2 separate regions of the Homo sapiens genome follow, and region 1 is linked to region 2. Evidence: fine-mapped expression QTL. A gene starts in region 2. The other region holds a variant in brackets. All regions are shown on one strand. Distances are from middle to middle. Region 1 has its middle 40 kb from the start of SCRT2. Region 2 holds the start of TRIB3 (tribbles pseudokinase 3).

Region 1 (11,732 bases), 330 kb after region 2:
TGTGAGATAAAAGGAGACGACGCCAGGGAAACGCTCGGTCGCTTGGCACTGTGCCCAGCAGCGTGAGTGCTCCAGAAATGTCAACCATTGTGAGTCCAGGAGAGGAGAGTGGCGCTCAGAGAGGGAACGGGACCTGCCGGGAGACTCACAGCGGGAGGAAGGGGGAGTAGGGCGCACGTCTGGTGACCTCCGCCCCCAGCTGTGGGAGTGTGCCCTGTGACCCCCTCATCCTGCCTTTGGATCACGAGCTGGGGTCGGGGGAGGGGATGGTGGGGGGGACACTGCTCGGTCCTCCACTCCGTGTGCCCTGTGACCCCCTCATCCTGCCTTTGGATCACGAGCTGGGGTCGGGGGAGGGGATGGTGGGGGGGACACTGCTCGGTCCTCCGCTCCCCTCCGCCCGCCTTTGATTGTGGTGAGCAGCGAGTCGCGGAGCAAATTAACTTTTCGCACACTTCATTATGCGCCGTCCCGCGTCCCCCGGGGCCGAGGCCCGCGCCCCCGCCCCGCGCCGACAACTTGATTGGGCAATTAATCTTCGCGCCCCCCACACCCCCTCCCGGCCCCGGGCCTTTGTGCGCCCGAGCGTGGGCCGTGGGCGCCCCCCGGGCCGCCCGGTCTGCTGGCGCAGATAAGGCGCCCCTCGCCGCGCGGCCCCGCCTTTGTCAGGGCGCCCGCAGGCCCGGCCGCCGCGCTGCCGTCTCGCACCCCATCCGCGCGCCCCCGCCCCTTGGCTCGGTCCATCTGTTTGAGCTTCACAATCCTCCAGCGGCCGGGGGCTGGGGGCGGGGTCTCGCTCTTGGGCAGGCAGCCAGCACCCCCTCCCCCCGGCCCCCCCACCCAGCCCCCAGACACGCGCGCGCACGCCCACTCGCACGCGGGGCCGCCCTGTCAAGCAGTGCGGTATTAATTAAGAAGGTGGGGGGGAAGCACAGCAGCAGTTTGAAGAATTGTGGGGCGGAGGGTTCCCAGCGGTGTCCAGAAAAGAGGGGGACCCTGCCACCCATCTCGTACCGCAGGTGCTTAACGCCTGGTTATTGGCTTGGGGATCTACAGGCTCCCATGGCTGGGGGTGGGGGTTAGGGGAGGTGGGAGGTGGGAGGGAGAGGCCTGGGAATTTGCCTGACAGTGTCTCTTTGTGCATTTTTCTGGGGTTTTGCCAGCAGTTGACCCAGCCTCAGAAAGGTAGCCTGTGATTCAGGTAGTGTTGAAAACCAGAGGCCCAAAGGCAGGATAAATCTGGGCCTATTTTAGAGGCCAATAGCGTGGTGGTTCAGAAAGGGGTTCCAACAGTTCTCCCTACTCGCCGTTGAGGATTTGCGTCAGGTAACCACCCTGCGCCCGGGGCGGTGGAGGTGATGGGCTGAGACCGTGTTGGCGCAGTGCTGGGTACACGGTGAGTGCTCACAAGTGCTGGTTCTTGCTGTTTTCTGTGATTTTCCTTGGAGGGGCACAGGGAAAACCAAAAATGGCTGGTGCTGGAAAGAGGCCCTTGAGTTTCATCTCACAGCTGGCGGTAGGGTGAAGCTTGGCAAAAAACCTGTGGTCTGTGCTGAGCTTGGGGCTGGGTGTGTGTGTGTGTGTGTGTGTGTCTATGGTCTTTGAGAAGTGTCTTCATCAGCATATGACTTGTGTGAGTTTTTGGGTAGAGAAGGCACAGCCTTCACTAGTTTCTACAAGAAGGGTGTGATCCAGTGTGCGAAGAATCCCTGTGTGCAGGGCTGGGAAATCAGCTTCATCTCTTCCATCCAAGAACAGCATGGCTGGCACGCTTATTGTGTGCGGAGTCCACGGTAGCGTCCCTAGGTGCTAGGGACAACCGTGAGCAGAGCAGAGTTCTTGGCTGCCTTCACAGACTCGCAGTCTCCTTCGGAAGATGAATGAGAAATAAAATAAACATGTAAGACATGAGGTAGGTCACTAGGTGACATGAGCTTTAGATAAAAACAAAGCAGGGCACCTGATTAGGAGGGTGGGCCCTACTTGCCAGACCCCTACCCTCATCCCCAATACAGTGTGTATCATTGCCTGGGCAGGAAAGGGCCACACTCCTGGGTCTAGGGAACTAGGTCCCTAAGTAGCCTCATGTCCCCACCCACTAGGACCCAGCCTCCAGCCAGTTCTGTTGCATGGGGCAGGGTCCCTGGGAAGATGGGCAGGCCTCAGACTGCTGCAACCTCTGCCCCTAGCCCTGAGGTGGTGGCAGTAGTGTTTCCCTCTGATAATGACATACTCCAGTCTTGCATGACCACGATGCCTCATGAGCCCACAGTCCAGAAGGGGCCTGGTGAGCAGGAGCTGAATTAAAATGGAAAATACGGCCTCCCTTCCCCCCTTCCTGTTCCTCCCCACTTACTCCCTTCATTCCTGCTGCTCCTGAAGCCATGGGTGAATAGTTTCTCAGTCTCTTTGCCTTGCTGAGCTGGGTTAGTTGGGTTAGCAGGATGGACATCTCCTTATGGATACTAGAGTTAGGAGACACCCAGAACCAGCAGGTGGGATTTTAGAAAGTGCTGTTTGGCTCTGACCAACCCCTACTCCCACCCCATGCATAGCAGGGTTAGTTTCCTCATCAACTCTGGTCTCTGATTCTGATGTTCTGCCCCTAAGCATCCTACATTCTAACATTGTATTCTTCTGACTTTTTAGAATTTTCCCATCCTATGCATCTTACACGAATATGGTGAAGTTCTGATTTCCGCCCTTATGTTCTAGATTGAGTCTTCAGTATTAATTTTGTTGGGGTCTACCCATTCAAATAACAATAGAGAAAGACTATGTGCAGAGTCACATAATACTAGTCATGATAGTAGCAATTAACATCCTTTTGACCTTGGTTTTATTTAACAGTTTTTTTTTTTGAGAATTTTCTAAGCGCCAGACACCATTCTAGACATTATACAAATAAATAGATAAAAATGAATAAATAAATAAATGTTATTTTAGAAGGTGCAATTGAAATTGAGAGTCAAGGCAGGACTCACTAAGAAAGTGACAATATTTTCTTTCTGCTTTCAGTTATGGAGATTTGAAATCTCAGTTGATAAGGTGGATTTATTTCTCCTTGCAGGTCATTCACTTTTTCCTTCATGTATTTTGAATCTCTGCTATTGGGGGCATAAATATTTAGAATTGTTATATGCTCATGATTAACTGACCTTTTTTTTTTTTTTTTAGATGGAGAGTCTTGCTCTGTCGCCCAGGCTGGAGTGCAGTGGCGCAATCTCGACTCACTGCAACCTCCGCCTCCTGGGCTCAAGAGATTCTCTGGCCTCAGCCTCCTGAGTAGCTGGGATTACGGGTGTGCACCACCACGCCCAGTTAATATTTGTATTTTTAGTAGAGATGGGGTTTCACCATGTTGGTCAGGCTGGTCTCAAACTCCTGACCTTGTGATCCACCTGCCTTGGCTTCCCAAAGTGCTGGGATTACAGGCGTGAGCCACCGCACCCAGCCTTGACCTTTTTAATCATTATAAAATGACCTTATCTTTCCTGGTAATATTCTTTGCTCTGAAACAAACATTGTCTGATATGAAACTAGCTACTCCTCCAGTGTTATTTTGATTACTGTTACTTTCCATCTTTGTACTTTTAACTTGTGTGTTTACACTTAAGGTGTGCCGTTTTGAAGGTTGGGTCTTATTTTTTTTTTTTAAAAAAAACAATATTTGGGTCTTATTTTTTTAAAAAAATCCAATCTAACAATCTCTGCTTTTTAATTGAGGGTATTTAGACCATTTACATTTGATGTGATCATTGACGTGGTTAGATTTAAGTCTATCATCTTGCTATTTGTTTTATTTTTGTCCCATCTGTTCTTTGCTTCCTTTTTCTTCTTTTTCTGTCTTCTTTTGTATAAGCTCAGTTTTTTTTACTATTTCATTTTAACTCCTCCTTTTTTATTATATCGTTTTACCTTCTCTGTTGGTTTATTAACTGTAATGTTTTGTTTGTTATCTTAGTAGTTACATTAGGCCTTATAAGCCTGGGTACGGTGGCTCACACCTGTAATCCCAGCACTTTGGGAGGCTGAGGTGGGCGGATCACCTGAGGTCAGGAGTTTGAGACCAGCTTGCCAATATAGTGAACCCCTGTCTCTACTAAAAATACAAAAATTAGCCAGGCATGGTGGTGCATGCTTACAGTCCCAGCTACTCGGGAGGCTGAGGCAGGAGAATTGCTTGAACCTGGGAGGCAGAGGTTGCAGTGAGCTGAGATAGCACTACTACACTCCAGCCTGGGTGACAGAGCAAGACTCAAAAAGAAAATCATGTAATAGTATACTTTCATTTCCTTCCTGGCCTTCTTGCTGTTGTTGTCATACATACATATGTGTGACAGACTCCACAAAATGTTATTATTTTTGTTTAAATGCTAAGTTATCTTTTTTTAAATTAAATAATCAGAAAAGATTTTATATATTTAACTCATGTAGTTAACACTTCTGGTGACCTCCATTCCCTTATGTAGATCCAGATTTCCATCTGGTATCATTTTCCTTCTGCCTGAAGGATTTCCTTTATCACTTCTTGCAGTGCAGATCTGTTGGTGACAAATGCATTCAGCTTTTGTATGTCTGAAATCATCTTTATTTCATCTTCATTTTTAAAAGATATTTTAACTGGGTATAGAATTCTAGAT[C/T]GGCAGGTTTTTTCTTTCATTAGCTTAAAAGATGTTGTTGCTTCACTATTTTCTTCCTTAAATTGTGTCCAACAAGAAATCTGCCATTATCCTTATCTTTGTTTCTCTATACTTTACAAGGCTTTTCTTTCTCTGACTGTTTTTAATATTTATCTGTTTGTCACTGGTTTTGAGCAATTCGTTCATGGTGGGTAATTTCCTTCCTGTTTCTTGTGCTTGAGGTTCGTTAAGCTTCTTGGATCTGTGAGTTTATAGTTTATATCAGATATGAAATATTCTCAGCCATTAATTTTCTATTTCCTCTCCTTTGGGGACTTCAAAGACACATATATTAGGCTTCTTGAAGTTGTTCCATAGCTCCTAATACTCTTGGTTTTTTGGATTCTTTCTTTTTCTCTGAGTCGTCGATTTTGGGTAGTTTCTATTGCTACATCTTAAAATTCTCTAATCTTTTCTTCTGTCACATCAGCATATTTTTCATTTCAGACATGTAGTTATCATTTCTAGAAGTTCAGTTTGGGTCATTTTATATCTTCCAAGTCTCTCCTTAACCTTTGAACATGCAGACCATGAAATACAATTTGAATACTTATTTTAATGCTCTTATCTCCTACTTCTGTATCAGTTCTGGGTCAGTTTCAATTGATTGATTATTATTCTTGTATGGGCCATGTTTTCTTGCTTATTTACGTGCATGGTAAACTTTGGATGCCAGGCATTGTGAACATTACCCTTGTTGGGTGCTGTACACTTTTATATTTCTATAAATCTCCTTCAGTTTTGCTCTAAGATGCAATTAAGTTACTTGGAAACAGTTTTATCCTTCCTAGTCTTGCTTTTATAATTTGTTGAGTGGGTCCAGAGCAGTGCTATCTGTTGAGGGCTAATTATATACCACTGTTGAGAAAAGACCTTCCTGAGCACTCTACCCAGTACCCCAGAAATTATGAGGGTTTTTTCTGTTTATTAATATTTCTGGTTTTGTGTGAGTGCTGAGCACTGTTCTCTAATCTTATCAGATGATTTTCACCCCTACTTCAGTGTAGTTTTATCATACAAAAGCACCAACCAGTACTCAGTCTAATACTCAAGGGGGACTTTCTTCATATCTCTGGAATAGTCTCTCTGTGCAACTCTTTCCTCCCAATACTGTGTCCTGCAAACTCTGCCCTCTTTGTCCTTCCTGGACTCTCAACTCTATTTCCTTAACTCAGGAAGCCTCCTGGGTGCTGCCTGGGTTCCTCCTCCCTGCACTAGGTTCTGAAAACTCTCTCCAAGCGGCAAACTGAGGCCATGATAGGGTTCATCTTATTTCCCACTTCTCAGGGATCATGATCCTTTATTGCCTGTTGCCTAGAGTCTTAAAAATTACAGTTTCATGTATTTTGCCTGGTTTGGTTTGTTTGTTTGATTGTTTCAAGCAGGAGAGTAAATTCAGTTTCTGATACTCCATCTTGGGTGGAAGCAGATATGAGAAGGTGACATTTGAACACAAACTTGAAGGAGTTGATGGAGTGAACCAAGAGGATATGGGAGTGGGGAGAGGAAGGAGATTCTAGGCAGTGTGAACAGCAAGTACAATGGTCTCCTGCGTGTATAGCTGAGAGTGCGGGTAGTGTGTTTGAGGAAGGAAGGGAGCACGTATGGCTGGAGCAGAGAGTTATGTGGGGAAAGTGGGGAGAGGGAGGGATGAGGTGTCAGCTTGTGTAGGACCTTGCAGGCCATGGAGAGGATTTTGGCTTTTACACCAAATGAAATGGGAGCCATGGGAGGATTTTGAGCAGAGGGAGGACATCTTTTACAGGATCTCTGAATCGATTGGATTAACTGAAAGGGATAAGAGGGCAAGAGAGAAAGCCAGAGACTTGCTGGGAACCAGTGCACTAAGCCAGGTGAATGCTAGTGACTCAGACACATGAAAGGACACACTACCAAGGGGGTGAATAACTAGGAGCGGGGATGAAGGAGGCTTCTGGGGTGCTGTCGGTGTCTTGTATCTTGATCTGAGGGAGGTTACATCATCTGCTCACTGTGTGAAGATTCATTGAGCTGGATGTACACGTCTAAATTGTGTTCACAATTGAATTGAATACATGAATATATTACTATATAAATATACTATATACATATAAAACTTAGAAAACAAAGTAGGGAGATGAAGGTGGCTTGGACTAGACTGTTATCAGTGGAGGTGGGAAGAACTGTATGCATTCTAGATCTCTTTTATATGTAGATCCAATAAGATTTGCAAACAGATCTAATGTTAGATGTGAAGACAGAGAATAGTCCAGGATAATGTCAAGTTCTCTGGCTGAGCTACAGCAAAGACTGAGGACCTGCTGTGTACCAGAGCTTGGGCTAAGCTCTATTAACTTCTTTAATCTTCATGACAATTCTAGGAAGTAAGTCTGGCAAGAGCTGCTTCTGAGGTTTTTGTGGGGCTACTGGGAGCCTTTCCACCAGAAGTGTAGTTTGTGTGATGGATTCCAGAGGTAGTGGTGGCCACCTTTGCCTCCATGAGGTTACAGGCTGCCTGAGAGTGAGGCCTACAAGAAAGAAATCAAAGCCATGATAGAGAGAGAGACAGGATCCTCACAGTAACATGTCAGCACCTGGATTCAGCCATAACAGAAGCCAGTGCCCTGGGCTTCTCAGTTATATAAATTAATAATTACTTTTTTTTTTATTTCTTTCACTTCTAACTGAAGAGTCCAGACTGATACAACTTCTTCATATGTGTCCCCTGTCTGCACCATCCAATGGACCATCAACAGCAGCTACATCCTCTCCTTACCGTTGCTTGCTTGCTTTTTTTGAGACAAGGTCTCTTTCTGTTGATCAGACTGGAGTGCAGTGGCATAATCACAGCTCACTGCAGCCTTGACCTCTTGGGCTCAAGCAGTCCTTCTGCCTCAGCCTCCTAAGTAGCTGGGTCTATAGGTGCTTGCCATCATGCCCAGCTATTTTTTTTTTTTTCATAGAGACAGGGTCTCACTATGCTGTCTAGGCTGGTCTTGAACTCCTGGACTCAAGAAATCTTCCTGCCTTGGCCTCCCAAAGTAGTGGGATTACAGGCGTGAGCCACCGTGTTTGGCCGTCCTTACCATTTCTAATGCCTGCTCTGCACTTTCTCTCTCTGGACCTTTGCTCCTACAGGTCCTCCTTTCCAGAATGCCTTTCCTCCCTTACCTTCTGCCCTCACATCAAAACCAGCCCCCTACTCAAAGCCATCCTAACTCCACCAGCTGAAGGATGGAGCTGGCAGAGTGCTTAGATATCAATCCATTTTACAGATGGGAATACCAAGGTCACTGTGAGACAGGGCAGATTTGTGGTCAGGACTCCCGCGTTCTGACTCTCTGAGACTCTTTCCATGATCCTCCAGGACAGCCTTTTCTGTGCCCTCCCTTGCGTGGGGTTGAACAGTACTTTTCACAACAATTTACACTCTCCCATACCCCAACCCTTGCACGTGCTGTTTCCTCAGTCTGGGATGCCCTATTCCATTCTGTCCTTCCGGAAAGGGTGCCACTTGAACTTGGAGATTCAACTCAAGGATCAGACTTCCAGAAGCCTTCTCTTTTTCCCAGGGTGGCTCTGTGTCCTGCCTGGTACTCCCACAGCTGCCTCTGGTACCTCCATGAACCCATTTATCCATTTGTTTTTTAGGTGTCTGTTTCTTGTTTGCCTCACCTGTTAGGTAGGGGAACTGAGGCAGACCTCCTGGCCAAAGAAGGCTCCCAACTGATGTTTGTGAATCAACATAGAGTGAGAAAGAGCCCCGTGGAGTGGGGCGGGGGGTGGAGAGCCAGCGCTGGGCGTGGAGGCAGGACGCCTGGGCTCCAGTCCAGCCACCACCACTCTAGTGTGTGGCCTCATGCAAGTCATGTCCTCTCCTTGAGCCTCAGGCTTTTTTGGCAGTAAAAAGGGCAGAACATCATAGTAGTTAATACCTCAGGCAGCCTGGATTTGAATCTTGGCTGTGTGACTTTAGGCAGTTTACTCCAGCTCTCTGTGCCTGTTTCCTCATTTGCAAAATGGGGGCAATAAACATATCTGCATCATAGGGTATTTGTGAGCATTAAATGAGTTAATGTTTACAAAGCTTTCAAACCATGCTTGCTTGGCACATCATATAAGCATCCCAGAGTGAGAACCATTAAACAAAAGAAACCCTTCCCTTCCTGAGAGGAGAGGAGAGCTTGACAAACTCTAAAGTGGCGTGTGAGTGAACTATGGTCACTCTCAGGGGGTAAGCTGCCTGGAAAAGGCTGACTCTGACACTGACTAGTGTGTGTCTTTGGAGAAATCATGTCACCTCTCTGGGACTCAGCTTCCCCATCTATCAAATGGAGGAGTTGGTCTAGCGCAGTTGGAGTTAAAGTGCTTTGTCTCTTTGAGTTTTATGTCCATGTCAGTAGAGTGGGCTGAGAGCTGCATGTCTGTCATGCGCTCCTGGTGAGAATGAAATACGATGATGGGCCGGACGCGGTGGCTCATGCCTGTAATCCCAGCACTTTGGGAGGCTGAGGCGGGTGGATCACTTGAGGTCAGGAGTTCGTGACCAGCCTGGCCAACATGGTGAAACCCTGTCTCTACTAAAAATACAAAAATTAGCCGGGTGTGGTGGCGGGCGCCTGTAATCCCAGCTACTTGGGAGGCTGAGGCAGGAGAATCGCTTGAACCCGGGAGGTGGAGGTTGCAGTGGAACCAGGATTGAGCCACTGCACTCCAGCCTGGGCAAAAAAGTGAGACTCTGTCTCAAAACAAATAAATAAAATAAAAAATATAATAATAAATAAATAAATACAATGATGTCTGGAGCACTTGCCAGTCATGCCTGCCACATAGCAAGTAATCTGTCATAACTGTCACTGTTATTCTGGCCCTGACATTCCAGGGTTCCTTGAGGTGGGGCAGGATGAGGGATGGGCTGGGCATCATGAAGGAAGGTGCTGATGTATCACCTACTGACAGTTTAGAAAAGGGAAGGCAGCCATGTGACCCACAGGCAGTGTCCCCCTGCCTGAGCCTTATTTGCAGGGCTGTGGCATCGGTGAGCAGGACAGGGACCACCACGCCCACTAGAGAAAGAAGCACGTGCTGCTTTTGTGAGTTCACAAAGGTCTTGGTTTTCCAGGGCCAACAGTGTCCCCGCCACACGTGACCACCTCAGAACCATCACCTGCCACCTGCCAGGGCCTGGGAGTTGGAATCTGAGGTGGAAGGAGAGAGCAGGGGCCAACTCCTGGCTGCTCCCCTCTCTTGGTATGTGACCCTGGGCAAGCCTCTGCACCTCTGTCCCCTTTGTCCTCTCTTGTCACATAATGAGGTTTTGAGTGTCTTAGATAGGGAGGATGTCTCCCTATCTAAGGATAGGATAGGATAGAAATGGCCAGGCCCTGGTGCCTCTGCTAGCTCAGTCTGGCTGGGACGACCTGGGAAGAACATGGCCTCAGTTCCAAAGCCAAGGCGGCTCCTGGGGGAGCTGCAGCTGGAGGCTGTCAGCTTGCTGCCCTCCTTGCTGCTGAAGGACAAGCTTTTTCTTGAAGATAGGATGGATAGGATGTCTCCTATCCATCAGGAGATGCGATTATTGGCCTAGACTGGGCAGGGTCTCCACCTGGGCGACGGGTTGGGAGGCGGAAGTGAAGCTGGTGGCATGAACCATTCTCAGTGACCTTTCACCAGGGTGAGTGGGAAGTAGTTGGGAGCATCGAGGCCTCACTCTCCATCCTGAAGATGGAGCACAGACTGGCTGGCTGAGGCCGGGAGCTCATCACGGGATGGAGACAGATTGGCAGACAAAGAGGAGGCGGGCGGTTGGGGCTGGGTGCCCCTGGGGAGGAAGGCGGGGAGAGAGCGTAGGAGCAGGAGGAAAGAAGGCTGGGCTTATGTGCAGCCTCACAGACTGGGCCTGCAGAGTCTCCAGCTGGAGGTTGGGACTGGACCTTCCTCCTGAATGGGCAGGGAGGGAGGCTTGTTGGCCTAGCCCTCGGGGTTCTTGAAATAAATGAGGGAGGGCCTTGGGGGGTGGTAAATTGCTGAGGCTGTGATAAACATTCTCCCCTTCCCACAAAACACACACAGGCACGTGTGCGTGCATACACATACACACACACACCCTGGCCACACTGCTGTGCATATCTTACTGATTGTTGTCCTCTGTGACAGCAGTTCTCCAAGTTGAGTGCATTGGAAGGATCAGTTAAAATGCAGATTTCCAGGCATTTCCATCTCTAAATGTAGGGTGTGGCCTGAGAATGTGTATGTCTTACAGGATCCTGGTTGATGCTGATGCTGGGGGTTCTGGGACACACTTTGAGAACCACTGCTCCATTGAGCAGCCTTTCAGTTTGGGTGCCCCTCGGTGCTGGTGCTGGGAGAGAGTTAGGAGGGCAAGGGGGTTAGTGAGGGCTGCTACCTGTGAAACACAAAGCAGGAGGGAATGGAATTGGCCAGGAGAGCCTCAGACCACAGCCCGGGCCTGCAGAGTCACCCTCTAGGGGTCTCTGGAGTAAAGATTATCCACAGAGAAGCCCCACATGGGGCAGAAATGGCCAGGCCCTGGTGCCTCTGCTAGCTCAGTCTGGCTGGGACGACCTGGGAAGAACATGGCCTCAGTTCCAAAGCCAAGGCGGCTCCTGGAGGAGCTGCAGCTGGAGGCTGTCACCTTGCTGCCCTCCTTGCTGCTGAAGGACAAGCTTTTTCTTGAAGAGAGACTGTGTCCCATCCACAACTGCCCCAGGCATCTACCACATGCCAGGCTCTGTGCAGAGTGTTTACCTGGATGAATGCAGTTTCAGATCAGAGCAACCTGGCCAAGCAAATATAATCGTCCCCATCTAATAGATGGGGAAAATGAGGGATTAAGTCATCTGCCCAGTGGTGGAGTCAAGATTTATCCCCTCTTGTGCCTTAGCACTCATCCCTGTCAGCTTCCCTGGGTGGTGAAGAACATTAGCTCCTTTTACACCTGAGGAATCTGAGGTGTGGAGAGGTCAGTGACTTGCGGTAGAGGTGGGTAGAGGATCCGGGATTCCAACCCTGCTCATGCCCCTCTTTTTAAATTTCAAGATGCTGTCCCTT
Region 2 (11,732 bases):
AGAAAACACTGACCTCACTGACCTACTCCAACTTTCTCTTCTTATTTTACAGATAAGAAATTTGAAGCCCCCGCAAAGGGAGGTGACTTGTCCACAATCTCACAGGCTCAGTGGCTTCAGCCAGACTTGGAACGCAACCAGAAGTTCTAAGGCATCATGTCACTTTTGTGGGGGAAATGTATGAAGATGAAAAGTTTCAAGGACACCTATGGTGGAATTTTAGGCATATGGCAATCACTAGGGACACCCATGTGGAAGGAAAGGAGGCAGGCATGGCTCATGTCATTGCTGTGGGCCCCACATCAGTGCTGGGGGTCAGAGACGGAACTCATCAGAACTATAGCAAAGAGGCCGGGCACAGTGGCTCACGCCTATAATCCCAGCAGTTTAGGAGGCCAAGGTGGGCGGATCATTTAAGGTCAGGAGTTCGAGACCAGCGTGGCCAACTTGGTGAAACCCCGTCTCTACTAAAAATACAAAAACATTAGCCAGGTGTGGTAGTCCACACCTGTAATGCCAGCTACTCAGGGAGCTGAGGCAGGAGAATTGCTTGAACCCGGGAGGCAGAGGTTGCAGTGAGCCAAGATCACATGCCACTTCCCTCCAGCCTGGGCAGCAGAGCGAGACACTGCCTCAAAAAAACAAACAAACAAACAAAAAACCAAACCTATAGGAAAGAGAAAAGCAGCCTTCTGGGCTCAGAAATCTGAGTAGAAAGATGTTCTGAGCCTGGAGAAAGAAATTCATAAAAGCCTGACTCTCTCTCCAGAAAAGAGTACATTTCTGCATTTAATTTTGGGAGGTTGGTCACCATTCTTTTCCTCGCTTCTAAATAAATGCTTATATAGCATTTATATTCCAGTCACTTTACAAATATTGTCATTTAATTCTCATGCAAACCAACGAGGTAGGAACTATTGTTATCCCCATTTTACAGATGGGGAAACTGAAGTACAAAGAGCTGAAGTAACTTTTCCAAAATAGATGTGGTTTTGAACCCAAGAAATGTGATACAACTATGACATGAGGCAGTCCCAATGCATTGAATCCTTATGACTGCAATGCAAGGGAGGTATAATTAACTGCATTTTATAGATGCAGAAACTGAGGCTTGAGGCTATTTGGTGTTTCTGGTGTAGATCTAGGAGCCAAACTCCAGCCTACCTAGACTCTTTGCCTCTGCTGTACCCCTGGACCATGTGTTAGGAATTCTTGGTACAGGGTGGTAGTGCTCAATATGGTAGTGGTTTTAGTCTGTTTTCTGTTGCTTATAACAGAATGTCTGAAACTGAACAATTTTGAAAGAAAAGGAATTTATTCCTTACAGCTATGGAGGATAGGAAGTCCAAGATTGAGGGGGCACTTCTGGTGAGGGCCTTATTCCTGGTCTCTGAAGTGTCTGGAGGTGGCACAGGGTATAGCGTGGAGAGGGGACTGGGCATGCTGACATGCTATGCTTTGGTCTCTCTTCCTCTTCTTATAAAGCCACCAGTTCTCCTCCTGTGAAAACCCACAAATCCATTAATCCATGAGTGGGTTAGTCCATTCATAAGGGCAGAGGCTTCATGATCCAATCACTTCTTAAAAGTCCCAACCGCTCAGTACTGCCACATTGGGGGATTAAGTTTCCAGCACATGACATTTGGGGGACACATTTAAACCATAGCAGTAGCCATTTGCCACATGTGGTTATTGAGCACTTCAAGTATGGCTAATGTGGCTAGTGTGACTGAGAATTTTTTATTTTATTGAATATTTTAATTTTTTTTTTTTTTTTTGAGATGGAGTCTCACTCTGTCGCCCAGGTCAGAGTGCAGTGTCATGATCTCGGCTCACTGCAACCTCCGCCTCCCGGGGTCAAGTGATTCTCCTGCCTCAACATCCCGAGTAGCTGGGATTACAGGTGTGTGCCACCATGCCCGGCAAATTTTTGTATTTTTAGTAGAGACAGGGTTTCACTGTGTTAGCCAGGACGATCTTGATCTTCTGACCTCATGATCCACCCACCTCCGCCTCCCAAAGTGCTGGGATTACAGGCATGAGCCACTGCGCCCAGCCTCACATTATATTTCTATTGGAACACAGAATGGTCTAGAGAATTGGGATTTGACAAACCCAGCTGTGACAAGTCACCAAAATTTGGGGGCCATACCCAGGGTGCCGTTCCTGTCACGATACCCATAGGTCCATGTGGAGGCTGCAGGGATACAAAGCTCGTGAAATATCCCAGGATGGCATGGGCACTGGAGTCAGCTGCCCCAAGTTCAAATCTGAAATCAGTCTTTTTGTTTTTTTTTTTTTTTTGAGATGCAGTTTCACTCTTGTTGCCCAAGCTGGAATGCAGTGGCGCAATTGGCTCACTGCAACCTCCGCCTCCTGGGTTCAAGCGATTCTCCTGTCTCAGCCTCCCGAGTAGCTGGGATTACAGGTACATGCCATCACGCCCGGCTAAATTTTTGTATTCTTAGCAGAAACCGGGTTTCACCACCTTAGCCAGGCTGGTCTCCATCTCCTGACTTCAGGTGATCCGCCTGCCTCAGCCTCCCAAAGTGTTGGGATTACAGGCGTGAGCCACCGCGCCCAGCCTGAAATCAGTCTTATACGACCAGCTGGGTGGTCTTGGGTAGGTCCCTTACCTTAACTCTTCTTGTCTGCAGAATGGAGGTGACTTACTGTTTTTCTCTGTCTCCCTTTCACATCTTTGCACTCTTCACCCCTTCTCTTCCCTCAGCTTTTAGTTTAAACATCACCTTTCTGATAAGCCCTGCTGAAAATGGCCACCCTCAGTCATGACGGAGAACAAGTCTTTCCTATTTTATTCAAGAAAATGCATGATGCAATCTATTTTAAATGATCATGGTTTTAATTTTATTTTCCTGATAATGGTCTATCTCTCCACTGATTTATAAGATTTGTAAGAGCAGGGGTGGATCATTCTGGTCACTGCTGAGTCCCCAGCATTTAGAACAGGGGCTGACACAGCACAAAACAACGTTAGTTGGGAATGTACAAGCAAACCCAGCACACCTTCAGAGGGGTGCTCAGGAAACAGCCCTCCCACCTTTCTTCACCCCTCACAGCTGTGGGATCTTCCTAACCATTTCGGTGTCCCAGGATAGAGGATGAGTTTATTCACCCCTCCCCAGCAGGGGAGTTGCCAGGATTAAATGAGATCCCAGAATGCCCTGGTATACCCTGAAGGCTCTGGGACACAGGTGAGCTGGTCCCCAGGGATTTGGAAACAGGAAAACAAATATGACTCCACCCTGCCTCCCATCCAGCCTCTGCCTAGAGGAGTTATTTTATTTTATTTTACTTTTTTTTTTTTTTTGAGACGGAGTCTTGCTCTGTCGCCCAGGCTGGAGTGCAATGGCGCAATCTCAGCTCATTGCAACTCCTGCCTCCTGGGTTCAAGCGATTCTCCTGCCTCAGCCTCCCGAGTAGCTGGGACTACAGGTGTGTTTTTTGTATTTTTAGTAATTTTTTGTACTTTTAGTAGAAACGGGTTTCACCGTGTTAGCCAGGATGGTCTTGATCTCCCGACCTCGTGATCCACCTGCCTCAGCCTCCCAAAGTGCTGGGATTACAGGCATAAGCCACCACGCCCAGCCTCTAGAGGAGTTATTTTACTTACTTACTTATTTATTTATTACACAGGATCTCACTCTGTCACCCAACCTGGAGTGCAGTGGCACAATCACGTTTCACTGTAACCTGAACTCCTGGGCTCAAGTGATCCTCCTACCTCAGCTTCCTAAGTAGCTGGGACCACAAGCTCGTACCACCATGCCCGCTATCTTTTTCTCTTTGTAAAGACAGGGTCTTACTATGTCATCCAGGCTGTTCTCAAACTCCTGGCCTCAAGCAATCCTCCCGTCTTGGCCTCCCAAAGTGCTAGGATTACAGACATGAGCCAGCTCACCCAGCTGAGGAGTTATTTTTTGACACTGGTGAATTCAGATCAAAAGGGATTTCTAAGAAAGGTGCTGGACCCAGGCCGGGCGCGGTGGCTCATGCCTGTAATCTCAGCACTTTGGGAGGCCGAGGCAGGTGGATTATCTGAGGTCAGGAGTTCGAGACCAGCCTGACCAACATGGAGAAACCCTGTCTCTACTAAAAATACAAAATTAGCCAGGCATAGTAGCGCATGCCTGTAATCCCAGCTACTTGGGAGGCTGAGGCAGGAGAATCGCTTGAACCCGGGAGGTGGAGGTTGCAGTGAGCCGAGATCGTGCCATCGCACTCAATCCTGGGCAACGAGTGAAACTCTGCCTCAAAAAAAGAAAAAAAAAGAAAGGTGCTGGACGCCTAGGACGCAGAGGGGTGTTTCACCCCAAATCAAGTAGCACCAAGCCCTCCCAGGCCTTGGGTGCAAGCATATTAAAGGCCTCTTTCCCTCTCTGTCTCCATTGTTTACACTCCACTGAGCATCCGCAATGTGCCACACACTGTTCTAAGCGTCTTACACATATTAAATTATTTAATCCTCACAACAACTTTATGAAGTGAGCGCAATTATGAGCCCATTTTATGGAGCAGGAAGTTGAGGCAGGGTTTTAGGTAGCTTTTCTGGGGTAGCACTGTGGGTTGGAGCGGAGGTGGAGTGCACTCTTAGGCCAGCTGGCTCTAGGGGCTCTTCACCACTAGGCCGCACTGCCTCTAGCAAAGGGACGCGGGGAAGCTCAGCAGACCTTAGGCCTCCCAAGGGCGCCACGGTGGTTCCTTTGAGCCCAGAGTCAGCTCTTAAGTCCATAGGCCTTCCTGAAGCTTCTGAACCACTTGCCCATAGCTGGGCCTCAGGCTGGCTCTCAGTAGAATGTGGAGAATGGAGATTCCCGCATGTCCACTTCTCCTAAAGGTTTTATAAGGCAGTGCTGGGAATGTGCTTTATAAAAAAGGGGAAGCACCCCGACAACAGTCACTGTTTGCTCTTTTAAGCACCATCCTGAGAAGGAGGAATGTTCTTCCCATTTCATAGGTGGGGAAACCGAGGCTCAGAAGAGCAAATTTTTGGCCGGGCGCGGTGGCTCACGCCTGTAATCCCAGCACTTTGGGAGGCCGAGGCGGGTGGATCACGAGGTCAGGAGATCGAGACCATCCTGGCTAACAAGGTGAAACCCCGTCTCTACTAAAAATACAAAAAATTAGCCGGGCGTGGTGCGGGCGCCTGTAGTCCCAGCTACTCGGGAGGCTGAGGCAGGAGAATGGCGTGAACCCGGGAGGCGGAGCTTGCAGTGAGCCGAGATCGCGCCACCGCCCTCCAGCCTGGGCGACAGAGCAAGACTCTGTCTCAAAAAAAAAAAAAAAAAGAGCAAATTTTTTTTCCAAGGTGATAGGGAGAGTCCGTGGCTGATGTCTGCACTGACCAGACGCCCCTAGGGGGCCAGCGAGGGCGGGTCCCAGGTGCAGCGGATGCAGAGGAGAGAGGCCCGGGCGCGGCGCGGGGGATGGTGCGATCCCGGGCCCGAGGGCATCAGACGGCGGCTGATTAGCTCCGGTTTGCATCACCCGGACCGGGGGATTAGCTCCGGTTTGCATCACCCGGACCGGGGGATTAGCTCCGGTTTGCATCACCCGGACCGGGGGCCGGGCGCGCACGAGACTCGCAGCGGAAGTGGAGGCGGCTCCGCGCGCGTCCGCTGCTAGGACCCGGGCAGGGCTGGAGCTGGGCTGGGATCCCGAGCTCGGCAGCAGCGCAGCGGGCCGGCCCACCTGCTGGTGCCCTGGAGGCTCTGAGCCCCGGCGGCGCCCGGGCCCACGCGGAACGACGGGGCGAGGTACTCGGCGGGGTGCGGCCTGCGGACTCGCCCGGAGGCCGGGGGGCGGGAGGGGGCGGCCGGGGAAGGGGGCGCCGGAAGCCTCTGGGCGTCTGCGTGTTGCCGCGTGTTACACGCACGCACGCCCCTTACACACCTTTTCACAGACCCCGCCGTCGGGGCGCGGCCAGGTCAGATCCCTTTTGATCCGGGCCTGGGCTGAGTGCTCCCCCCGGGCTTCAGGTGACGCGGCCCCGCGGAGCGTGGGGTCGCCCGAGTTGGGCTGGGGAAGCCAGGGACGGAGGTGTCCGGCCGTCACCCCTAGAGGAGGGCGTGCGGGGGTCTGTTTTGCGTGAGTGCGGGATAGGGGAGTCGTGTGGTGCGGTGAGGGGCTTGTGGGGGGCACTGGAGGACTCTGGGGGTGGCGGGGGATCCGAGGGGGTCCTCGTGAACCCGCAGGGGAGAGTCCTGGGTGAGGGTGGGTCCCGAGCACCTGTGTCTCAGGAGATGGTGAGAGCTGTCTGGAGGGCTGGGCACTTGGTGGCAGGGGTTGGCGGTGCAGGGGACACCGCCGGGACAGGGCTGGGGTGCCCTGGAGCGGGGGAGCCGAGGGAGTGGGAGCGGGGGCGCAGCGCGCGATCTCTGGCCCGGCAGGGCCGCTGGTTCTCCCCAGTGCGCGGCTCCGGGTTTGCAGGTGGACGGTGCGCGCGTGTCTGCGGTGTGTGCTGTGCCTGCAGACCGGGGAGGGCGGGGGACGACAGCCACCTCCTTCCCTCTGCCTCACCCCCCTCCTGTCCCAGGGCCGCGCTTCAATTTCCGCTGAAACTTCTGACTCGGACACCCGCCGCCTTTCGCTTGGGCTCCCACGGGAGGGGCCTGGCTGCGGGGGGCGGGGCGGGGTGGGGGTGCGGCCTTGCTCGGGTAGACCATGGGTGTGACAGCTGGGAGGGCTGTGTGTGTGTGTGTGTGTGTGTGTGTGCGTGCGCGCGCGCGCTTGCGCTTGATGTAACCCGCCCTCATTTCCCTGGGTCCCGAGTGTGGCAGGGAACAGCAAGAGGTAGATATTAGGGGCTGCTTTCATTCCACATCACAGATTCTATTCTGCAGTGTGGTCTGCAAAATGCCTTGCCCAAGATGTATAGACTCAGTTACCGCATCTGTCCCCATCTGGGTGGAGCTTATCCCAGGCCCCAACAGGCTCTGAGGGATGGCCGGGGCCAAGGCAGCCTGGACTACTGATGTGGCACAGGCCAGAGGGACTCCAGGCAGTCTCCTGCTGCACAGGGCACAAAGCATGTGCACAGCCAGGTATCATCCTGCGTGACTCAGAACAGCCTTGAGATGTAAGGAGTGTCATCCCAGCCTCGAACCTGGGGAGCTTTCTAAGACTCCCAAGGATGGTACTTATGCATCTTGCTGTGAAGAATAACAGGATGAGTGCTAATAATGACCATTTCCTGACACCTACCTGGCAACAGGTCCATAAGCTCTACATGCTTCATTTGTGTTTTCATTTCATCATCACGAAAAACCTGTAAGCTTTGCATCCTGTTCCCACTTTACAGGAACTGAGGCTCAGAAAGCTTGAGGAACTTGACCAGGGGTACCCCCCAGCTAGAAAGGGTTTGAGACAGGATTAGAACCCAGGAATATCTGACTACAGCCACTCCTTACTGCATTCTTACCAAGCCAAAGTCATGACCTTTCACTCATGTGGGGAGGCCTTCCCTTCCAAGGCAGCTCTTCCATTTGGGAGCAGCGTACTTGGAGAGGTGGGCCTCTGTCTGGTAACTGACTCATGTTGCCTTGTTAATCCTGCCTTGAACTGTTGGGAAGGTCTTTAACCAGGCTGAGGTCTCTCGCACCAATGCCCATACCTGGGCATGCACCTCCTTGGAATGGAGTTTAAGTGGGTGGGCAGATGGGTTCTAGAGAGAACCCGTCTGCCCTGACCATGCCCTACTGCCCTCTCCTTCAGCCACCACACACACAGTCACACAGCTGCGTGAATGGTGGCTTTCCTTTCACTTAACAGTTCACTCTGGAGATCCTTCCAATTACCCTATAAAGAGCATCCTCAACCTTTTAAATGGCTGCACATTGTTCCGTTGTGTGGATGAAGTATAATTTATGTAACCAGCCCTGTAATTATAGACAGCCAATTATTTCTGTCAAAAGGGCTGCAGGAATAACTGTGTATTTGCATGCTTACACACACACACCTCTACAGAATAAATTCTTAGCAATGGGATTAATTGCTGAATCAAAGCTCACACGCTTTTCATCGTTGTTTTTGTTTTGTTTTGTTTTGCTTTGTTTTGAGACAGTCTCACTTTGTTGCACAGGCTAGAGTTCCTGACCATGGCTCACTGAAGCCTTTACCTTCTGGGCTCAAGTGATTCCCCTACTTCAACCTCCTGCATGGCTGGGACTACAGCTGTGTGCCATCATGACCAGATAATTTTTTTTTTCTTAGGGACAGGGTCTCGCTACGTTGCCTAGGCTGGTCTTGAACTCCTGGGCTCAAGTGATCTTCCTGCTTCAGCCTCCCAAAGTACTGGGATTACAGGCATGAAGCACTGCACCCAGCCTGTTTTTCATTTTGATATTGTCAAAATGCACTCCTCAGAGGTGGTACCTTTTATCCTCCCACTAGCACTGTCTTCATTGTTAGTGGCTGCACTGCCACTATTCCACAGTATAAACCCACTTTTCATGACACTGCCAAGACATAAGGGTCTGAAATACTTAACAGTTTTCTTCCACAGTCCCCAAAATACAGGCTTCTCCCCCAGCTCAGGACATGAAGCCATCATCCCTCCTCATTGCAGGAGCCAAAGGCTGGACCTCACCTCGATTCCACCCTCTCCTTCACCCCTCACATCCAATCCATCCAGTCCATCCAGTCTGCCACTGAGTCCTCTTGATCTTCCTCCTATGAGCCCTTAACTTCGCGTCTCCATCTAGCACCCCCTAGTCCAGGTCACCTTCTCCTGCCTGGACTCGTGCTTGTGTGGGCCTCCTAGCTAGTCTCACTGCCCCGTCTTGTACTTTCAAATCCACCCTAAAAGCATGATGTTCCCCTGCTGAAATCCTTCAGTGGCTCCCCACTGCCTTTGGATAATTCCAAATCCTATTGTGTGTTAATTAGGATTAGGCTCAGCTGTAATATAGAAACAGCCACTTAATAGCTAAAATGAAATAGACGTTTTTTTCTTCTTTTTCTCTTTTTTTGAGACAGAGTCTTGCTCTGTCCCCAGGCTGGAGTGCAGTGGCGAGATCTCAGCTCACTACAACCTCTGCCTCCCAGGCTCAAGTGATTCTCCTGCCTCAGCCTCCCGAGTAGCTGGGACTACAGGCATGCACCACCATGCCCACCTAATTTTTGTATGTTTAGTAGAGATGGGGTTTCACCATGTTGGCCAAGATGGTCTCGATCTCCTGACCTTGTGATCTGCCTGCCTCGGCCTCCCAAAGTGCTGGGATTACAGGCATGAGCCACTGCGCCCAGCCTTCAATAGATGTTTATTTCTCTCCTGTGTAAAAAACCTGGAGGTCTGGCCTGACAACTCCATGTGTCAGGGACCTAGGCTCCTCTCTTGCTCTACTGTATGTGGTACTTCTGAAGCCAAGGTAGATGCTGGAGCTCCAGCAGTTAGGTCCACATTCCAGCATACAGGAAAGGAGGAAATGAGGAAGTTGGGCCCTCCCTTTAAGAACACTGTCCTGGGCATTGTACACAACACTTCCACTTGTGTCCTACTAGCCATATGCTGATACAAGGATACAAGGGAGACAGGAAATGCAGTTTATTCTAGGTGTCCTTGTGCTCAGCTGAAAATCTCAGGTTCTAATCCTATGTAAGGAGGGGAGACCTGAAACTGGGGACCACTAACCACCTCTGCCATATGATGCTCGTAGAGCCCTTCACAATAGGGCCTCTACTAACCTCACCTTATTTTTATTTATTTATTTATTTTTGAGACGGAGTTTCACTCTTGTCGCCCAGGCCGGAGTGCAATGACACTATCTCAGCTCACCGCAACCTTTGCCTCCTGGGTTCAAGCAACTCTCCTGCCTCAGACTCCTGAGTAGCTGGGATTACAGGCGTGTGCCACCACGCCCGGCTAATTTTTGTAGTTTTAGTAGAGACGGGGTTTCACCATGTTGGTCAGGCTGGTCTCAAACTCCTGACCTCAGGTGACCTGCCTGCCTCGGCCTCCCAAAGTGCTGGGATTACAGGTGTGAGCCACCACGCCCGGCCTATTTTTTTTTTTTTTTTAACTTTTCACTTTTTTTTGCAGTCACGCTCATTCTCCACCGTGTTCTTGGGGAACATGCAGCATGTTCTTTTGCCTCTTCCCTCACCCCAGAACAGGGGTTACTGGACAGCGGCATCAACTTCACCTGGGAACTGGATAGAAATGCAGATTCAGACCTTCTGAATGAGCTACTTTGGGAGTAGGGCCCAGCAATGTATGTTGAAACAGGCCTCCAGATGATCTCAATGCTTGCTCAAGTTTGAGAACCACTGAACCGCAGTATGACTCTCCGTGTCACCTGGCTAACTCTGCCTCACTTTCAGGTCTCAGTGTAGACACCACCTCTTCTAGGAAGACCTCTCTTGACCCACCAGCCCAGGAGAGAGGCCTCTCTGGGTTCCTAGAGGCCCATGCTTCTCTGTATAGTAGGGCTGATCACACTGTATGTGATTTTTTTTTTTTTTTTTGAGAGAGTCTTTACTCTGTCACCAGGCTGGAGTGCAGTGGCACAAACATGGCTCACTGAAGCCTCAACCTCCCAGGCTCAAGCAATCTTCCCACCTCAGCCTCCCAAGTAGCTGGGACTACAGGCATCCACCACCACACCCAGCTAATTAAAAAAAAATTTTTTTTTGTAGAGACAGGGTCTCACTATGTTGCCCAAGCTGGTCTTGAACTTTTGGGTTCAAGCAGTCTTCCCACCATGGCCTTCCAAAGTGCTAGGATTACAGGTGTGGGCCACTGCACCTAGCCTTGGACGTGATTTTATTACTCATCTGCCCTCCAAATTGACTGGAAGATCCTGACGGCAAGACTGCTGTCTAACCTACTTCTCTTCCTAGCACCCAGTGTTAAGTGAATGAACAAGATCATATCTCTCATCTGTGAATGTACGAGAGCCATGGATTATGAGATTAGTTGATTTTCTTAACTATAATTTTTAGAAACAAGCTGTGTTTTTAAGCAGGTATTTATTTCCTTAAATGTACATTTCTGATTACAAAATACTTTTTTTTGAGACAGAGTCTTGCTCTGTCACCCAGGCTGGAGTGTAGTGGCACAATCTCGGCTCATTACAACCTCTGCCTCCTGGGTTCAAGCGATTCTCCTGCCTCAGCCTTCCCAGTAGCTGGGATTACAGGTATGCACCACCACGCCCGGCTAATTTTTTTTTTCTCCCGTGACGGAGTCTTGTTCTGTTGGCCAGGCTGAAGTGCAGTGGTGTGATCTCAGCTCACTGCAACCTCCACCTCCCGGGTTCAAGTGATTCTCCTGTCTCAGCCTCCCAAGTAGCTGGGATTACAGGCCCACGCCACCACGCCTGGCTAATTTTTCTATTTTTAGTAGAGATGGGGTTTCACCATGTTGGCCAGGCTGGTCTCAAACTCCTGACCTCATGATCCACCACCTTGGCCTCCCAAAGTGCTGCCGTGGGCTGCACTTTGGCATTGCCTTGGTCACGTGCTGCTACCTGGGATTACAGGCATAAGCCACTGCGCCTGGCCTAATTTTTGTATTTTTTAGTAGAGACAGGGTTTCACCATGTTGGCCAGGCTGGTCTTGAACTCCCAGCCTCATGATTCGCCCACCTTGGCCTCCCAAAGTGCTGGGATTACAGGCGTGAGCCACCACGCCTGGCCAGGAAATACATTTACATGGCTCAAATTCAAAACTATAAAAGTCGGCCAAACATGGTGACTCACATCTGTAATCC

The links. PIP is the estimated chance that this variant, and not a neighbour inherited with it, causes the effect.
Region 1: its variant is the best candidate, but not a certain one, in a credible set for the expression of TRIB3 in left ventricle (GTEx, PIP 0.68).

What each region holds. Positions count from the first base shown.
Region 1 is chr20:709,553-721,284 of GRCh38, forward strand. No RefSeq gene overlaps it. Among named protein-coding and RNA genes, the nearest start is that of SCRT2, 40 kb to the left of the region's middle. RefSeq lists an enhancer at 10,343-10,847. The variant C/T (reference allele first, on the strand shown) is at 4,644.
Region 2 is chr20:375,393-387,124 of GRCh38, forward strand. TRIB3 (tribbles pseudokinase 3) reads left to right here and starts at 5,368. Exons shown (of 4, transcript NM_021158.5): 1 at 5,368-5,777. RefSeq lists silencers at 5,652-5,811, 5,832-5,941, 6,212-6,801 and an enhancer at 6,487-7,485.